Regions from separate parts of the Homo sapiens genome. Here region 2 is linked to region 1. Evidence: fine-mapped expression QTL. Tissue or cell type: iPS cells. Region 1 holds a variant in brackets; the other region holds the start of a gene. All regions are shown on one strand. Distances are between the middles of the regions.

Region 1 (10,439 bases):
TGAAGAGGAAGTGATACCACAGCCCAGAATTTTACAAACTCTGATGTTATCAACTTTGAAATGGCCAGAATCAGGAAAAATAGATACGCATGCCTGAACAATAAGCTTGGCCAGAAATACTTCATTACCATATTGTTTACACATTACAGAGGTACGAAGTAGAGATGAGACTTCATCAACATCTCGAAGGTTTTTTGCAGAACAACGTACCAAATTAGGAAGAATCTCATGAGCTTTTCTGCAAGCTATTTCATAACCTTCTATGACCTCTGAAACTGACAGGCCAATCCTCAGAAGTTCTTCAGCTAATTCCAGGAGAGCTCCGGCAAATACCAGAACAATGTTTGTGCCATCTCCAACTTCTTGCTCTTGCATATGAGAAGCCATTACAGTCATTTTTGCAGCAGGATGCTGTACTTCTAGTTCTCTTAAAATAGTCGCTGCATCATTTGTCACAAACAACTTCTCCAAGTGGTTGATAACCATTTTTTTCATTCCATTTCGTCCATATGCTGTACGAGTGGTTTGGGCAAGCTCCTTGCAAGCTTGTATGTTTCTATACACAGCCTCTTCTAATTCTGAAAAGTGTTTCGCTCCCTCCTTGAGCATCTGGGCGAAGCCCGGAGCCTTGGGAACTTGAAGCGCCATGGCCAGCCTGCAGGAAGCCGTTCACGTGACCGCTCAGAAGACCGCGGAGGAACCAAAGGTTTTCATGCCTGATGAACCTGGAGATACATTCAGTCACTCTTCCATCTTTGCTATATAGTCCAGCCATACCAGACTACATGCAAGTCCTGGAGCATAATGTATTTTTTGCTGTTCCAAGACTTTGTCTTTATAATTAGAATGCTATACCCTTGCTCTATTTGTTTGGCTATCTCCTATTATTCAACAAAGCCTCAATTTATTTTGCAACCACCAAAAACATGCATGCTAAAATAATTAGGTGAAAGGTTTTTAGGAAACACAGTTTCCAAATGTCACCCCACTGATTAACTTCAACGGGAAAAAATATCTTTATAGTGGAGAAACTTGATGGTATCTATACCACCTTATCTAAGTGGTCAAATTTAGCATTATTACTGTGAGATAAACTGACATAATGTGGTTCTTGATGTGACCCACTAAGATCAACATGTCCTATGTAGTATATGTGTCAAAAACATTTAACCTGAATATAATAAAGGAAAAAAATTATGCAAGTCTAAATTTAGAGACTCTCTACAAAACAATGCCTTGGGTTCTTAAAAAGAAAGCCCATGTCAAAGAGAGAATTATTTCTTATATAGACCAATGGAACAGAACAGAGCCCTCAGAAATAATACCACATATCTACAACTATTTGATCTTTGACAAACCTGACAAAAACAAGAAATGGGGAAAGGATTCCCTATTTAACAAATGGTGCTGGGAAAACTGGCTAGCCATATGTACAAAGCTGAAACTTGATCCCTTCCTTACACCTTATACAAAAATTAATTCAAAATGGATTAAAGACTTAAATGTTAGACCTAAAACCATAAAAACCCTAGAAGAAAACCTAGGCAATACCATTCAGGACATAGGCATGGGCAAGGACTTCATGTCTAAAACACCAAAAGCCATGGCAACAAAAGCCAAAATTGACAAATGGGATCTAATTAAACTAAAGAGCTTCTGCACAGCAAAAGAAACTACCATCAAAGTGAACAGGCAACCTATAAAATGGGAGAAAATTTTTGCAATCTACTCATCTGACAAAGGGCTAATATCCAGAATCTACAAAGAACTCATACAAATTTACAAGAAAAAAACAAACAACCCCATCAAAAAGTGGGTGAAGGATATGAACAGACACTTCTCAAAAGAAGACATTTATGCAGCCAACAGACACATGAAAAAATGCTCATCATCACTGGCCATCAGAGAAATGCAAATCAAAACCACAATGAGTTACCATCTCACACCAGTTAGAATGGCGATCATTAAAAAGTCAGGAAACAACAGGTGCTGGAGAGGATGTGGAGAAATAGGAACACTTTTACACTGTTGGTGGGACTGTAAACTAGTTCAACCATTGTGGAAGACAGTGTGGCGATTCCTCAAAAAGAACTAGAAATACCATTTGACCCAACCATCCCATTACTGGGTATATACCCAAAGGATTATAAATCATGATGCTATAAAGACACATGCACACGTATGTTTATTGCGGCACTATTCACAATAGCAAGGACTTGGAACCAACCCAAATGTCCAACAATGATAGACTGGATTAAGAAAATGTGGCACATATACACCATGGAATACTATGCAGCCATAAAAAATGATGAGTTCATGTCCTTTGTAGAGACATGGATGAAGCTAGAAACCATCATTCTCAGCAAACTATCGCAAGGACAAAAAACCAAACACTGCATGTTCTCACTCATAGGTGGGAACTGAACAATGAGAACACTTGGACACAGGAAGGGGAACATCACACACCAGGGCCTGTTGTGGGGTGGGAAGAGTGGGGAAGCATAGCATTAGGAGATATATCTGATGTAAATGACAAGTTAATGGATGTAAATGACAAGTTAATGGGTGCAGCACACCAACATGGCACATATATACATATATAACAAACCTGCACGTTGTGCACATGTACCCTAGAACTTAAAGTATAATAAAAATATATATATATAAAAAGAGAGATTAAAGAGACATGACAACTAAATGTAATGGTGTGATTGATTACCTGACAGGATACTAGATTTAAAAAGATTTTTTTAAAGCTATAAAAAATACTATTAGGGCAACTGGGGATATTGCCAATGTATTAATGTATTTTATCAATGTTAAATTTCCCACGTGTGATAATTATATGATGGTTATGTAGGAGAATGCCCTTTTTCTTATACAATATACACTGAAGTATTTAAAGTGTCTTAATGACTGCAACGTACTCAAATGGTTTCAGAAAAAAATGTACTTGTGTATGTATGCTCTATATGTATGGACCTATCTACAGAGATGGGGAAAGGAAGCAAATATAGCAAACTTAACAGGTGAATCCAGGTGAAGGATATATGGGTGCTCATTGTACTTATTATTTTGCAACTTTTCTGTAGATCTGAACATTTTCAAAAATAAAAAGTTGGAGGGAAAATAAATTTAAAATCAGCCTCTAGAAATGTTTTCCCTCCCTGGTTCTCTGAGGACCCCATCCTTTGTACTTTCATAACACTGTATGTATTTCTTCATTATAATCTGTCCTCTTTCTTCTCATTAGAGTATTTAAGGTAAGATCTATTTTTTGAGTCTGCCATTTATTATTTCTGTTGCCCTCGGGAAAATTACTTAGTTTCTCTACATCTCAGTTTTTATATTTGTAAAATGTAGATCAAAAATTGTGGAGGCCAAAGCAACTCCATCTTAGAAGTTAATCTACCATATTGACTTCTGATCAACCCTGGTTCCGGGAATACCTCTGAGATTTCCAGTTAATCTGTTGTTTAATAGTATGTACTTACTGTAAATCCCACCCTTAGGGCAAACTCCTACCCATTCGCTCTGAAGTATGTGTGCCCCTCCCCTGTGGTATATCATCCCTGGGTCAGGAGGTAATGGTATGGGGATCTACCATCTTGTCTCACCACTGCCTGAGACAGACATGGCTTCTGTTCATAAGTCCCTATGAAATGTTTCTAAGAAACTGAATCTGTCAGCTTCTTTCTTCAGCCTCTCAGCTTCCTCAGCCTTTGGGGTAGGTTTGCATAGACCTCCTCACTGTGAAACAAAAATAGTACCAACTTATAGGGCTATTGTCAGGATTAAGTGAGATACTGCATGTAACTCATTTAGCACTGTGCTTATCTTATAGAAAGTCCTCAGAAAGGTGAGTGTTATTTCTATTACTATTACTATTATGTCTTCTCTCTGTATTTCATGCCCATGTATGATGCCTGGCTCATAACAGGTACTCAATGAGTAAATGACGCACTGTCCTCAGCTATCATTTTGTTGTTGGGTATCATGCAAAAAGAACTGATACCTGGGGGAATGAGAAAAGGGTTACTGCCAAAGAGAATTCTAGATTAAAAACCCACAGACCAATAGATCTTGGACATCTGTGGGTACAAGTTAGAAATCTGATTTCAGATTCTATGAGTCTATAGGCTTTCTTTTCTTTTCTTTTCTTTTTTTTTTTTTCTTTTTGAGACAGAGTCTGTTGCCCAGGCTGGAGTGCAGTGGTGCAATCTCAGCTCACTGCAACCTCTGCCTCCAGGGCTCAGGTGATTCTCCTGCCTCAGCCTCCTGAATAGCTGGGACTACAGACAGGTGCCACCACACCTGGCTAATTTTGTGTTTTTAGTAGAGATGGGGTTTCACCGTGTTGGCCAGGATGGTCTCAAACTCCTGAGCTCAGGTGATCCACCCGCCTCCGCCTCCCAGAGTGCTGGGATTACAGGCGTGAGCCACCATGCCCAGCCACTGTGGGTTTTCTTAATGTATGGGTAGAGGTGGCTTTACTATTAGCCAGTGTGAAGAGTCCTTATTCTTGTGCTTTGGCCACTATCCCTGCACTCCCATCCTGGGAACATACCTGTGTTTAGGCTTCAGGCCAAACATTTCATGGTCAAACCTTTGGTTTATCTTTTTTTCCAAATATTTGTTTGCTAATGATTGGCCACAGATCTTCCATATAAAATGTGTAAGTCGAGAAGAGAACAACACATCAGCAGGATATCCGTAGTCCCCTACACGATTCAGGATCCAAGCCCCTCTCCTGGTGCTGAGGAAAACCTGGGGCATGGAAGAAATTGTTTGCTTTTGTCACTCAGATTCGTAAACCTTCAAAAGCACCCCCATTTTCTTCAAGAATCATTTCAGGCCCGGCGCGGTGGCTCACGCCTGTAATCCCAGCACTTTGGGAGGCCAAGGCGGGCGGATCACGAGGTCAGGAGATCGAGACCATCCTGGCTAACACAGTGAAACCCCGTCTCTACTGAAAAACCCCGTCTCTACTAAAAATACAAAAAATTAGCCAGGCGTGGTTGCAGGTGCCTGTAGTCCCAGCTACTCGGGAGGCTGAGGCAGGAGAATGGCGTCAACCTGGGAGGCGGAGCTTGCAGTGAGCCAAGATCGC[A/G]CCACTGCACTCCAGCCTGGGCAACAGAGTGAGACTCCGTCTCAAAAAAAAAAAAAAAAAGAGTTCAAACTCATTAGTCTGGCTTTTTAGCCCCTGCACAATCTTTGTGGGTTTTTATGTTTGTTTCCTGCCATTTTCCTTCCCAAACACTAAACTTAGAATTAAATTGGTGTATCTACTGTCCAAGAATATGTTTTGCTCTAATACACCGTTGTATTTCTGTTTAGTGCTATTATGCCTGCCTGAAATGCCTTCTTTCCTCTTAACTCTGCGAAGCCTGTTCATTTTTAAGACCCAGATCAAGACTGCCTCCTCCATGAAGAAACCGCTGACTATTCAGGCTGACAATTTTCTCTCCATCCTCTGAATTTCTCTAGCACTTATCACCTGTAGAACTCATTAAAAATCATGTACTGGTAAAGTTGAAAGCAGCTGGAGACCATTTAATCTAAAACCCTCATTCTTTTGCCATTGACATTGTTGGCATTATTACAAAAACCCCTGCTATTTATCATTTTTATTGATATTAAACTTTCTACACTCCTAATTTCTGTCTCTTCAAATGTGTTTTCTCAAGGATAGGAGATAAAGCCTACACATCCACAGCAGATTATCATCACTTCCATTTATTGGGATTTGTGACCTTTAAGTCATTGTGCTAGGTCCTTCATCTATATTACAACAACCTCTTGAGGAAAGTATTATTACACCCATGTTATAGATGAGGGGCATGGAAAGGATGAATAACTTGCCTGAGATCACAGAGCTAGTAAGTGGCAGAGGTGAATTTCCAACCCAGGTCTGACTAACTCCAAAGCCTGTGCTTAAGAAATGTTTGATTGATTATTTAATGGAGAAAAATAAGATTGCTAGTGGAACAACAGGAAGCTAGTCAGTCTTTCTGTGTCCTCCTCTGGCTAAAGTTCATGTTCAGAACTGATAAAGATTTGATATGCAGTTACCTGGCAAAAGAATCACTTTTCCTACACTATGAAACTCTCTGGAGATGGCTTCCAGATTTTAAGTTATATACGCACATTGCTTCATAGTCTTTTTGTCTAAAATGACCTGTCTACAGAGGGATAATTGTTTACTTCACAAATCTTATCTCGCCTAAAGTGACTGTAAGCACTCTGATAATTATGTACTTCCACAGTCACAGTTGAAAGAGCATATATGGTCTTAGAAACTGAACAATTTTGTGTGCTGGCTATATAACTTCTGCTGAGTAATGAAAACGCTCAGAGCCCTAATGAAAAGATTTCCTATTTATGAAATAGTAATAATAATAATACATATATCACAAGGCTGTTGTGATAATTAAGCAGTGTTTTTGTAAAAGGTGTGGTATATAGTAAACACTTGATAAGTGCTTAATGGCTGTCATATTTCTTATTTCAGTTTTCCATCTATACCTTGTTTTAAGCAAATAACATTTACAAATCAGATTTATAAGGAAAATTGTTTAATCAGTGTAATCTTATATGAAATTAATATTGAAAAAAAGGAATGTTTTCTCTTTACAAAAGCATCTACAAGAATTATACGAAAAACTTCCATGATATACTGAAATATATAGGTCCATTTAAAGTTTTTGATTTATAAACAAATCATCATGAATACAATTTACAAGTAAAGTAAAAAGTTAGAACTCAGCAATTGAGTTTCTTCAGCTTGGATTAGTGGTGTGACAGTATTGCCTCTGCTATGCAGACATAGTTTTCCTTTGCATTTTCCCAGGCTTTCTCACAGACACAGCCACCTTATCTGTACCCACACAGAAATGCTTTGTTATGTGGCAACCTGCAATTCCCCAGAGCAGGTAAGGCCAAGCTCCCTTAGAACTGCCCATTTGACAAGCCAATGATATTAAAGATGGCTCTCGCCATGGGTCCCCACTCCACATTTTGCACATTCCTCTACCATAACACCCACATACGTTTTAACCCTTGTTTATATAATTATTTTAATTATTTTTAATCCTTGTTTATATGATTATTTCCTGATAAATGTCTGTTGAATTAATTTATGAAGTATCATATGAAATAATTTTTGTGGTTATAGATGAGGATAGCAATGAGAAGAAGTGTTTTTCAAACAAAGTTGCTGAGTAAGAGTCATTTAACAGAATTGTAGCACTAAGCTTCTAATTAAAATAAAACAATTTAAAACATCTTTATAGAGAAGCATGGCTTAATTAAAGTTACTAAAGAACAACCAAGACATTTACCTATTGCCAATAGAGTTTGATTCAACACAGACATTAATAACAAAATACAATATTGGCATGTCTTTTTCCAGGAATTTATAGTGAAGACACTTGCTTCTCAGTTCAAAGTCTGCTATACAAAAACCAAAACAAACAAAACAAAAAGCCAAGGAGATATAATTGCTTTAGAATGAATGTTATCTGAGTTACCTAACTGTATGCAAAGGCCAGGGCAAGCTGCTTGCATGTGCTACAGTTTGGACGCTATACGGATACCCACATTGTCTTTGGGAAGATAAAATTGATACTTTTTTCCATTTGGGGAGTGTAAAGGAAAATTCAAGCACCATCCTATGAGTGAAAAGTTTCCAATGATCACGCGTGCTTTCCTTTATGTAAGAACATAGCACTTCTGCTGGCCAATTGAAGATCCTCGCTCTCAATACTGCTTTCTAACAACCTCTCCCAGCAATTACTTTGTCTTTATCAAAGCCAGAGGCACACTCTGAGAAGATGCCTGATTAGGATAATGAGCCCAGACTTTAGCTGATCCAGTTCCTTGGTGTGAGGCTAGTTGCACAATGGAACTCTAACTGGTAGCCTTAACTCCTCTATTAGCACCAATCACCATGTTGCCAACTGAGGTAATGAAACGAAGCCCTATATTTGCCACTGGCACTGAAGGGCTATGTGCAGGTATCCCTATTCTCTGTTGGGTCCACCTGCAGCTTCCTTGGAGAAACTGAAGCTAGAGTTAAGCAACGTAAATAATAATTGAGTGATTCAAACCTGCTTGGCTGTTTGGCTAATCTCTACAGCCAGATCCCCTCCAGAATTCCCAATGCCAATTATAATGACTCTCTTTCCAGTGAATCCCTCTGGGTTCTTATAGTCTCGACTGTGGAAGTACTGCCCTTTGAACTTCTCAATTCCTGCAAGAGAAGGGAAAATAATTATTGGGTAATGGTTTACATGATAGATATCATTTGTCAAGTCATTTGTTTTTTTTGCAGACTTAAGTTTAAGCATATATTCTCCAAGTGTTCTCTTTACTCAGCTACTTTCTTGCCTTTCTCAGTATTTTTGCCTATTTTCTTTTCCCATAGCCTCAGAGTAGTACCTTGTGATTTCCTTGTCATATGTACTTTGCTTAACTCAGGATGTGTTTGTATTTTGGATTTAGAGATATAAATATAAACTGCCTCAGAAAACCTCCATTCTCTTTTATCTTTTCATCCCCTTAAATACCTACTCGCATTTCACTTACAGCACATATATTCTTATATACTTTAGAGTATAGAGTGCTTTTTTTTTTAAAATGAAAATCCAGGCCAAAGACTGAAATTCTTCAAGCTTTCATTCCTTCCTTAGAAACTCAATATTTGTGTTTACTGCTGAAAAATTCCTTATTCTACCTAATGCTCCTCAAGAACTCCACATTCTTCCCTTTGATACTCCAGTCATTTGATACAATGACTAAAGTCATTGTAAAACTAAATAGACTGCAAATTTTGCTCTAATCTCCAAAATTACAAAAATGGCAGTAATACAAGTTACCCCAACATCCTTCTGGGGAACAAGAATAATTAGGATAAGTCTTACTTCATTCCAAAGTAGGAATTACTCAGACCACAATCCTCCCATTCCTCAGGGGTCAGGTCACAGGCATGGGTCAAGGGTCTTCCTTCCTGGTAAGCTGCTCACCAGGGAAGCTTTCCAGAGGTAGATGAGCATTGGTGTGATGGCCAGTGCAAACCATGACTCCATCAAAGACATTCATCTCCTTTTTCCCTTCAGATTCAGTGACCACTTCCCATTGGCCTGAAGTGGCAAAATCAGGCTGCTTCTTCACACTGCACACAGTGGTCTGAAAAGAAAAGTGATAACCACAGGGGACATCCCTGACATGACTCTCCTTGCATAGTGTTACACAAAGGGCTGATATCACAGACACTATCACATAATAGGACCCATGCAGGGATATTTGATTTTCATACTCCACAAATAAGAACTGTTTGGGGCTGTAGTCAGAATGAGAAAATTTCCACAAGACAGAAAAAAATAACATAGTGTTGGCAGGCTAATGTACCCTCCTCTTCTAGAAAAGTGCAAGTCACCAGGTCTCTTGGTCCAGGTCCTAAGGCACTGTAACACCTGAGTAAAGCCTGGGCTTCTCCTGTGCTTTTATGACACTCCATGCACTAAATGCCTATTCTTCTCCTGACCCCTATATGTCCTGAGACCTTCTGATGTCTTCTTACCCTAGGTTCTCTTCTCCTGGCTACCTTTAAATAAGTGACTGAGCTATAGGGCTCCTTTTCCTGGTAGGGTAGAAAAACACCTCAGTGGCTCTCATTTTATATAAATGAATCTCCCTTTGGCTCCCATAAATACCCATTTTACAAAGAACTATAAAGAAAGAGGCTGTGAAACAGGATAGTGTTATGATTTTTAGCTTTATAAAAAATAATAAATATGGGTTACCCTACTTAGGTTAAGGAAACACTATGTGCTTCTACGGGCCCATGACCATAATGTCTTCATGGACTAATAGAGACACCATCCCGGCCGGGTGCGGTGGCTCACGCATGTAATCCCAGCACTTTGGGAGGCTGAGCCAGGTGAATCACCCGAGGTCAGGAGTTCAAAACTCACCTGGCCAACATGGCGAAACCCCGTCTCTACTACAAATACAAAAATTAGTGGGTGTGGTGGCACATGCTTGTAATCCCAGCTACTCGGGAGGCTGAGGCGGGAGAATTGCTTGAACTTGGGAGGTGGAGGTTGCAGTGAGCCGAGATCGTGTCACTGTACTCCAGCCTGGGCAACAGAGCAAGACTCTGTCTGAAAAAAAACAAAAAACAAAAAAAAAAAGAGAGACAAACCACCCCTGCATGCACTAGCAATCCAGCACTATTTATAGTTCCTCTATCATGTTCTTTTACACAGGCTGGTGCCTCTGCCGAGATCACCCTTTTATTCCTTATTTGGTAGACTCCTACTCATCCTTCAAGACTCAGCTTTAAGAAAACTTTATCTTCTTTAAGAAAACTTCCCTGGAACCTGATATTTCATGTCCTGATGGGTTCAACATCTTTCCTCCGAGCTGCAACGTATAGA
Region 2 (10,439 bases), 37 kb before region 1:
CATACAAAGGGCCATTCTGACAACCAGTTAAATCACTCATTATTGCTTTGGAAGCAACAAATAACATGACTACCTAAAAATTCAAAATGTGTTTTGCTTTAGTGCAGAAGTCAGAGCAACAAGACTCAGACAGTTACAAAAGACTTCCCACAAGCATAGACAGGACTTGTATGACATAGTCCTAAAGAATGTAGCCATAAAGCTATTATGAATCCCTCTGAGGCAATGAAATTCTAAAGGGTAAAACATCTCTGACTCACTATGAGGTTAAAAAAAAATCCCACAGATATACTAAGTGGCCGCAGAAAAGGGCATGTTCTAGAGACAGTCCTTAGTAGGTGGAGAAAAGTCCAGCTGGGTCTCTCTTCTGAGAAAAGAAATCAGGTCTCTATTCCTGGACCCTTAGATTCAACCAAGACACTTGTCACCTCTTAATCAGTGGAATCTTGGTGCTCCAATTGTTGAAGGACCCAGAGATGAAGACCTCCTTGCCTCCTTCAGACCAGCGGATAACAGTGGGCCGGGCCTGCTGTGTGGGCTTTACGGAGTCCTCCAAATCCTGCTGCCATGATACAAACTCTTTGTCCCCAGGGAGCTGTAAGAAGGAGTAGGTCATCCCTAGAATAAACTGTGACCCAAGAATTCTAAAAAGGTCACTCTCCTCCCTAGGATAGAGAAGGGTGCTAGGCTTTGGCTAAGGATATAAACCCCAAAATTAGCAACTAAATCAGAGTTTGAACAAATTATAGAAAAAGAACTCATCTAGGACCAAAAATGGTCAAATGGCCTATGCTCAAGCACTGCCTAAATCATAGCCTAACTTTTGAGTCTACCTGTGTCACTTACCCTTCCAGAGCCTTAGACTCTCCCTTAAAAAAAAAAGAAAAAAATAACTCCCTACCACTAGTTTAACTCATAGGCAGGCAATTATGATATGCTTCTGAGTCTTTCTTCAGAGGAAAAAAAAATGAAAACAAAGTATGGTTCTGTAAAAGATAATTAAGTCAGCCATATATTTTTATAGGCAAATATGAATAGCTCTCAATTACCAGTTGTAATGGAAGTCAGAGATATCAAAATTCATAAGTAATTCATAAACTGTATTTCAGCTAAGAAGTAAAAAGAAGAAACATTAAAAATTCAAAAACTAGATCACTGATTTCTTAAAACTTGAGAAGTGGCTATGAAATCTTACTTATTCCCCTATCCCAGGCTTATACTAATTATTTCAGGAGTAGGAATAAAAATTCTAGAACCTCAAGAAGCAAGAGATCAAAAATACAATTTCCTTTATCAAAAGTAGCTCTCTTATCAAATGAGGTTTATGGGATTGTAAAAACAGTAACTCCTGTTTCTTTTCATTACTATCCTTTGGACCAAGAGTTGGCAGACAGCCAGTAAGCCAGATGCTTTTATCAAGTGTTATTTGAAAACAGCTCTGCCCATTTGTTTACCTATTATTTTACTGATTGATTGATTGAGAAAGGACCTTGCTCTGTCACCCAGGCTGGAATGCAGTGAGTGGTGTAATCATAGCTCACTGCAGCCTCGAACTCCTGGGCTCAAGCCATCTTCCCACCTCAGCTTCCAGAGAAGCTGAGACTAGAGGTGTGAACCAACATACCTGCCTTGCTTACCTATATTGTCTATAGCTGCTTACAGGCTACAGTGGCAGAATTGCGTAGCTATAACAGAGACTGTATGGTCTACAAAGTCTAAACTATTTACTATCTGGCCCTTTACAGAAAGATTGCTGACCCCTATTTTAGACTGGTTTAAGTGACTTTGGTAAATAAGACTGTATAGTATTAAGCCTAAATATTACTAAATTGAATAATGTGGGTTTTTTTTTAAAAAAAGGACTAGCTTATTCATTTGGGCTTTCTTTTCAAAATGGTTGACATAGCTTCCCTCCATACATTCTCTTGATATTCCTCAAAACTACAGTATAGCATATCAGTAGCAGGATAATCCAAAGTAAATAGAGAAAGAGAATTGAAAGGACTTTCACATAAGGAATTGACTTAAGAGAAAACTACATATTCTCAGAACAATGCACTCTTGACTAACTGGCTGCGTTAGAATTACAAGAATTTGACATATGCCTAAGAATAACCCTCAGATTCGGATGTAAGATCTGGGAACCTATTTTTAAAAAGCTTTCTAGATAACACTGTGATTATGTTAAAATAAAGGAAAAAAAGCTTCCCAGATATACCGTGATTATGTTAAAATAACAAAGAAAAAACCCTCATCTTTAGAGGTACATCCTAAAATGTTACAGATAAAATAATACTTGATATAATATCTGGGAATTTGCTTCAAAATAACTAGTGGGAGAATAGTGGACTGGGGTATAGATGTTATATGTTCATTCAAGATATGATCATTGTTCAAACTGGGTGGCATGTATATAGATGTCATTATACTGTTTCCCCCTACTTTGAAAGTGTTTCAAATTTTCCAAAAACTATTTAAAGAAATCTGAGGTGATTCTAATGTGCAAACAGGATTGAGAACCACTGAACTAGTCCACTGAAAAAGGCAGGCATTCAAAGCAAAGTAGGCCCCCCTGCCACTGTTTCTGTCAGTTACTTTTATGACAGGATTTTCAGTTTAGAATTTGAAAGCTACAAACTATTAATATGCCTAGCTTTGGAGGAAAGCCCTTCCACTTATGACATGACATTTCTGTAGTAGGAATGAATGCAACTGACTAGCAGAAAGATTGTTTACTCCAAGTTACTCAGCAAAACTACCAGGAAAAGAGGCAAAACGACAATCAGAACTACAGTTTGATGTTTAAGTAAAATGTTGAGTTTAGAAGTAAAGAGGCTACATTGAGAACTATAAAATTTTAGACTTAAATGAGACCTTAGGAATTATCTGATTTTCAGACAATCTGAAAATTATATGAATAATTTTCTTAATTCACAAATGCCAAGACTGAGGTGAGAGATAAGAATAATACAAAATAGGCCCCAATTCAGACAGAGCAACCTGGCTTTTAATCAGGACACCAATTACTGCAGTCACAGTTCGACAAATACACTGTATTTAAATCCTGAGTCATCAACATAGGAAAAGGGTAAAAATATAATGAGGCGGATCACCTTTCGAAAGCTTTGAAGAAGTAAATTCAGATGGCTTGTAGATAGCCCAAATAAGAATGGAGAATTGGAGAATAAACCCCAATAAGTGCTCCTTTTAATCACTCTCACTTCTCTGTGATTATGGTTGGTTTTTTTGTTTTTTTGTTTTTTTGTTTTGAGAGTCTGTCACCCAGGCTGGAGTGCAGTGGTTTGATCTAAACTCACTGCAACCACCGCCTCCCGGGTTCAAGCGATTCTCCTGCCTCAGCCTCCCGAGTAGCTGGGACTACAGGCATGCACCAGCATGCCCGGCTACTTTTTCTGTATTTTTAGTAGAGACGGGGTTTCACCATGTTGGTCAGGCTGGTCTCGAACACCTGACCTCAAATGATCCAACCGCCTCGGCCTCCCAAAGTGCTGGGATTACAGGCGTGAGCCTCTGCGCCAGGCTGTGATGATGTTATCAATTGAGATCCAAAGAAATAAATCATGGAATCCAAATTCCATGTGCTACCAATATGGCAAACAATACTCTATTCACTCTCTAAAGCCCCAGTTCCCTGGGAAGTGATGAAATGATAGGAAACATCAAACACACCCGAATCTCCTCAAGCCCTCCATTTTTCTATCTCATCCAGTCAGTCTACCTGGAGGAATTACTTGTATTTCATGCTGACAGCTCTGAAAGCCATTAGAAACATTAGAATGGTAATCGCTGCTATCAGCTCCATCTGTCCTTTCTTACAGAGTGAAAACAAGTTGTTCTCTTCCTGAAAGTCCTTGGAATTGAGAGCAAGGTCTTCAGGGCAGCTGTGGGTTGTCGTTTTTTTAGCCACGCAACATTTTGAAGTACTACTGAGGAGTAAACAAGTCGTGGAATCATTGGCTCTTCCACCTACGGAGCAGCAGCGGGGCGTGAAAGAGGCACAGCCTCAGCCACCACAACTATAAAGTATGGGACAAAAATTAAGCAGTCAACTAAATGATGTCCTTAATTGATCCCCAAGACTAGGAGAAAGTATTCAATAAGCAAGTAGTTGCTGCTTACAGCCGTGCCAAAAGGGAAGAGGATCACAACTGTAGAGCTGCTAGAAGAGCAAAAATGATACTGATACATAGAAATTTTCAGAAAAAGAATTTCATTTAGCCACCTCAGGGCAAAGGTGAGAAACTACCACCTATGGTCAGCAACTCGTGCAACCTACCCTCTGAAGTTGTCCACCAGGGATTACAAACTACAAATTCAGCAACGCTATGGAAGAGAGCCATTCGTGCTCGGAGGATCGGGGATGGGGGGATGTCTATTGTCCCCATCCTAAAAATGTGGCCAACAGATTAGTCAGAACACCAGGAAAGCAAGAACTCCGCCTCTTTATCCTATTTTGAGGCGGCACTTCAAGAGGAATTATCATCCAACACCTCTGTCCCCGATAAATCCCTTTAATTCAAAAAACCATAGCCCGGTTCGGCGCGGTAGAAAAGAACCAAGAAAGGGAAGAGGAGCCCAGAAATCAACCCGCTGCAGTACTGACACCAACTGCGGGCATGGGACGCTTACCTTGGAGTCAGGGAGGCTGAACACGCTGGGGTCGTCCGTACTCCCCACCATGATCTTGTGCTCCTTCCCCGGGGCATGGCCGCCTGCGCCCTCGGAGCGTGCAGCCTTGGCGCCGTGGCGCTCCCCGGACACCCGGTCGCTGGTGGTGTTTCCCATGGCTGCAGCTCGTCGGGGACCACCTACCGCGGGGAACGACACCGGGCTGGGAACACCTCAGCCGCCGCGTCAGGGGCGCCCCCCGGCCCCGCCCCTGCGCCTCGGGACAGGGCAAGGGATTCCCCGCCCCAGGGAAGCCGAGCCCTGGAGCCCTCTCCCTCCTGGCCTGCGGGAACGCCTGCAAATACCCCGGTGCCCTCACTGGCCCTAGCTCAGGAAACCCGCTATCGGGACCTCCCCCGCGTCCCCGCGCTCACTGCCAGGGGCGCCCCCACTCCAGTCACCTCGGGCGATGCGCTCCCTCCTCCAAGGGCCACTGATGTGATGGCTGTTCTGCAGATCAGGCCACCAATAAAGTTATTGAAATTGAAGCCGCACCCCTCGCTGGCGACCAGCGATTCCTCCTAAAATGGCTACAAGGCCGGCGGCGCGGAGTCCGCCCAGTGCGCGTTCCCTGCGGCCTGCAGCCTCGGCGCCCGGGACCCGCCGGCCTCTCTAGCCGCCGCCGCCGCCGCCTCGATGGTGGGCAGTCGCACGCAGCCTCCAGCGCCAGGAGGGGGCGCCAGGCAGGGCCTGTCCCGCCTGGGGAGACTGCGCCCGGGATAATAGGAGCGCTTGGCCTCTGAGACTACCCGGCAGAAGGGACGTCCCCAAATGACACTCGGAGGCCGCCTCCCTGGGCTCCGGTGCTCGGTGCCGGGAGGAGCGGCACGGCTTTCTACCCCGCCTCAGGTGCGCCAGCACGTTTTCTGGGCAGCATCTGTGTGTTAGGCGACCGGAGAGGTGGGTTCCTTATAGGGAATAAGAAAACTGAAACTGACTTCCAACTGCAGGCAGAAGGAAGCAGTGGTCATTGCTGGAGGTTAAAACTGTTCTGACCGGGCGCAGTGGCTCACGCCTGTATTCCCAGCACTTTGGGAGGCTGAGGCGAGCAGATCACGAAGTCAGGAGATCAAGACCATCCTGGCCAACAAGGTGAAACCCCGGCTCTACTAAAAATACAAAAATTAGCTGGGCGTGGTGGCGCGCGCCGGAAGTCCCAGCTACTTGGGAGGATGAGGCAGAAGAATCGCTTGAACCCGGGAGGCGGAGGTTGCGGTGAGCCGAGATCGCGCCATTGCACTCCAGCCTGGCGACTCAGCGATACTCCGTCCCCCTCTCCCCGCCCCAAGAAAAATCTGTTCAGTGGGGAGCGACAAGGAAGGAGCTTTCAGCCCGACTGGGGTCGCAGGGAAGAATTCAAGATGGCGTGTTTAGGAGCTCTAGCTCCTTGACAAATTAGTAAAATGTTAGTCTTAGGAGAAGAACGAAAAGGCTCTCCTAGGCTAAGAAACAGCATACACAGTGAGAAACCTCAGAAGAAATAAAATTCAAGGAAGATAGCAACAACGAAAACATCAGAAGGAACACTAAAGGTATAAAAAGGGCAAAGACAGCCCTAGGGTTGGGAGGGATCCAGGTTTTTTATGAAAATTAGTGGAATCCCTAAGGTACTTACCTTTGTATTATAAGTATTTGCATGTCTCCTTCTAGAAACGTTTATCACTCTGTGTTACACAGACCAGCAGTGTTGGCGTCAACTGGGAGCCTGTTAGAAATGCAGAATCAGGCCCCATCCCCAGGGTTCTGAATCTGCATTTTAACAAGATCACATTAAAGTGTGTGAGAAGCAATGCTTTGACAGCTGGCAGAGAGCAGATCCAGATTTGATACCTTTTCATATTCTGCATGTACCTTATACAGAGTAGGCTTTTGCATTTGCGGAATGAAGGATACAGGAATACTGTTTACTGTAATCCATTTCTAACCAGATATGCCACTTAGGCTTAAACACGGCCAATGATGGGGAACCCCAAGTTACATAGGCCACCCTTTCTGAGTGAGCAGCTCTATTTGCTGAAACGTTCATTTTTATATTATGAAGTTGACATCCCACTTAAGTACAACAAATTCACTACTCCCCTATTCTTTGCTCTGCCTCTTATAAACTCATTCTTTGGCTCATAAACCAAAGACAGTTTACAGGAAGAAAAAAAAAAGGTACGATTTTACTGCAACTTCTTGCTCACCCCTCCAAAATCTTTATGTCTGAGTACATGCTTTTTGGTTATCCCTACTTTTCTCCCTCCACCCCTCAATTCCTTACCATAGGACACTGAAGCAAGGCCCTTGAAGATACATAATACATTAAACCTTGACTTGTGTAGTATTCAGTTTTCTGACCCCAAGGTGGTTTCACCATGCCAAATAATATGTCCTTGGTATGTATTTCCTTGCAGTAGTCAAATCAGCCTAGCAGAAACAAAGTACGTTAACCAATGGAAAACTGACGGAGAGAAATAAACTGTTTTTGCACAGCTAAATGGAAATGACTTTTGAATTATCTGCTTTGGAAGATTATCCATGACACTGTTCTGCCCTGCTCTGCTCTAACAACATTTGTAAGTCACTCAACAGTTAATAATAAAAGTCAGTTTTGAATATTGCAGGTTTTAGACACAGAACAAATGTAATGTGACACTGTAGGAAGAATGAATTCTCCTTAGTCCCAAATTCCTTTTTTTTTTCTTAGATTCGGGAATAAGTAAAGATACAAGATCCTCTTAACCAGTATCAGTATAATTGTTCCCTTTAGATTTATTGCTGTCACCCCAATGCTCTTCTTTCTTTCTAGAGGAAAGGAAAAGAAGGAGGTAATAGGAAAAGTAATGGGTTGTCCTGATGTTACTGTGTCTAGGATGTCATTGCCACTGGTCTCCTCAGATCAATCATTCTGCCTAATAAACAGAAAAATAACATGGGCAGCCTCACATGCAAGCCTTTACACACACTGCTAAAGAGACCTCGCTTCCTCTGAGAAGTGAGGATGTGAGAATGAAGGATTGATTTTACAGAACTGGATGACAGGTTAAATTGGGCATCTGGAGGTTTATATTCCCATCTCCACTCACCAAGTTTCATCCTCCATTTATGACCAAGGATAGGTATAACATCTGATCTTGATGGTTACTGTTTCAAAAAACAATCTGATCTTTTTTATAAAGTTAAACATTTACTTAATCATGCAGCATACTAATTCCCACTCCTGGGTATTTATCCGAGTGACATAAAAACAAGTTCACACAAAACCTGTAAACACATATATGTCTTTATTCATATAATAGAAAAAACACAAACCCTAAAATGGAAAAAACATAATGTCCTTCACCTGGTGATATGGTTTGGTTCTGTGTCCCCACCCAAATCTCATCTCAAATTGTAATACCCACGTGTTGAAGGAAGGACCTATAACCTTCACGTGTCAAGGGAGGGAAGTGATTGGATGATGGGGGCGGTTTCCCCCATGCTGTTCTTGTGATGGTGCATGAATTCTCACCAGAGATGATGGTTTTAAAAGTGTTTGGCAGTTCTTCCTTCATTCACACACACTCACTGTCTCTCCCCTGTGCCACATAAGATGAGCTTGCTTCCCTTCTACCATAACTGTAAGTTTCTGAAGTCCTCCCCAGCCATGCAGAACTATAAGTAAATTAAACCTCTTTTCTTTATAAATTACCTAGTCTCAGGTATGTCTTTATAGCAGTGTGAAAATAGGCTAATACATCTGGTGAATCAATAATTAAAATGTAGCATAGCTATAAATGGAATACTACTCAGTAATAAAAGAATAACTCGATACATACAATAATATTGATGAATCTCAAATGCATTATGGGAAGTAAAAGAAGCCAGGCTCCACTTATGTGACATTCTGGAAAAAGGAAGACTATACGGTCAGAAAACAGATCAGTGTTTGCCAGGACTTGGGGGTGGGGGGTGGGGAGTGATTGACTACAAAAGGGCATGAAGAAATTTTGAAGGGGAGGTATGGAACAGGTCTGTATCTTGACTGCAGTGGAGTTATTGATACTTACCAAACTGTACAATAAAAAGTAAATTTTTATTGTATGAAAATTATGCCTAAATTAAAAACTATTAATAAAATCAGCATTAGCAAAATATATGAGTTTATACACAAGAGACTACTCAACCATTGGGTAAACTAATTATTTTTAAACAAATACCATTGATTTTAATCTTTTTATAGTTTTTATACAGGCAGAGAAATAATAGTGATTCTGCTCACCTAAAGGAAGATAGACCCAATTCAAAGGTACAGAATTTTCCCCAAATAGTATCATAATTTTTCCTTTCAGATTCCAAAGGATTTGCATGTAAATTCTATCATGTGATCCTCAGAACCACCCTATGAGGGTAAGCAGAACAGATGATCCATGATATTCCATTTTATAAATGAGGTGCAGGTTAAATATTTAGCCAGTATTTCTTGATAAGTATAGTCCATTTATTTCAACAAACCTTGATTGAGGGCCCCAATACTTGTTGAGCTTTTGCTGAGCCACCCCTGCTCTAGAGGAGCACATGCTCTGGAAATCTCTAAGGAAACTACTACAACTCTAAATAGATATGGTGTATAGTGATACTGTGACTAAATATTCACTGCAAATTTCCTCTAAAATTATAGATATACATTACTGGAATAATTAGTATCTCAACATCTTCATTAACTATGAATCTACTATGTATATATCATCACCATGTGAGTATTAATTTGGTACAAATAGGCTGCCAACTCTAAAATTATTTGATGTAGGGCAAGTACTTTTATCTTTTTAGCCATAAATTTTCTCATCTGTAAAATGAGAGGAGTAGGCATGTGATCATTAAATCCTGGGTTACGGTAGGAGGCATCAATATGAAATGTTTAGCTTAATATAGATACAGATGGGTAAATATAGAAATACTTAAAAATGCATGTGGATTCATGTTTAATACATTAGTATACACACATATATTTCCAAGTTCTGTCCTCCGAAGGCCTAGAAGCAATGACAAGCAGAAGCAAGGAGCACACCCAGCATCCAGTTTTTTGTTTCTAATACTGTTCTCCAACAAAGGGAACCAGAGCCCTTGAGAAAAATGCCTAATTCTAGGACTGGGGCAGGGGATATACAAGATGAGTCTGAAACATCTTATAGTGCCAGAAAATAAACAAGTGCTTTAAAAAGACACAAAAAACTGATGGTATATCAAAGTGACATAGGAGCCAACTAAAAGAGCTCCCAATAGCTAAAGCTAGAATAATTCAAAAAATAAGTAATTCAGCATTGGATTTAACCCAAATTATAAAATAAGATCCATGAGTTCATACTGATACAAGTAAATGATTGAAGAAACAAATAATTGGGAGATAATTCTCATATTGAAAAATTCCAAAAAATTTATGTACTCTACCCTCGAGAAGATGGAACATAATTCTCCACCCCATAAGCATGAGTCAAGCCTAGTAAATGTTTTTCAAAGAGCGCAGTATGGAAAGGAGGAAGAACACTACCTCAACCAGCTGATCAAGGCTAACATCTCTAGTATGTCATTAGTGGCATGTAACCTTGATATGATATGATGAGAATAGCATTTGATCTTTGATCTGTTTCCTCCCCGAAACTCATTGCCCCAGCCTAATCATGAAGAAATATCAGACAATCTCAAATTAAGTACAAAATAACCAGTACTCTTCAGAACTATCAAGGCCACCAAAAACAAGGAAAGTATAAGAAACTGTCACAGTCTAG

Alleles and levels. Alleles are on the strand shown, and positions count from the first base shown. SD is a standard deviation of normalised expression in the study named.
For the expression in iPS cells of the gene that starts at base 5,132 in region 2, allele G in region 1 goes with a higher level than allele A (moderate effect, 0.55 SD a copy in PhLiPS).

What was found. PIP is the estimated chance that this variant, and not a neighbour inherited with it, causes the effect.
Region 2: it holds the start of PRKAB2, and the variant in region 1 is fine-mapped to the expression of PRKAB2 in iPS cells (PhLiPS, PIP 0.95).

Annotation. Positions count from the first base shown.
Region 1 is chr1:147,204,285-147,214,723 of GRCh38, forward strand. FMO5 (flavin containing dimethylaniline monoxygenase 5) reads right to left here. Exons shown (of 9, transcript NM_001461.4): 4 at 9,024-9,186; 5 at 8,109-8,251; 6 at 4,568-4,767. It also overlaps a transcript of CHD1L not described here and the pseudogene CCT8P1. Among named protein-coding and RNA genes, the nearest start is that of FMO5, 16 kb to the right of the region's middle. The variant A/G (reference allele first, on the strand shown) is at 5,111.
Region 2 is chr1:147,167,339-147,177,777 of GRCh38, forward strand. It overlaps PRKAB2 (protein kinase AMP-activated non-catalytic subunit beta 2), which reads right to left and starts at 5,132. Exons shown (of 8, transcript NM_005399.5): 1 at 5,091-5,132; 2 at 4,651-4,829; 3 at 429-595. The coding sequence starts at 4,806. It also overlaps a transcript of CHD1L not described here. RefSeq lists silencers at 4,792-5,061, 5,232-5,461.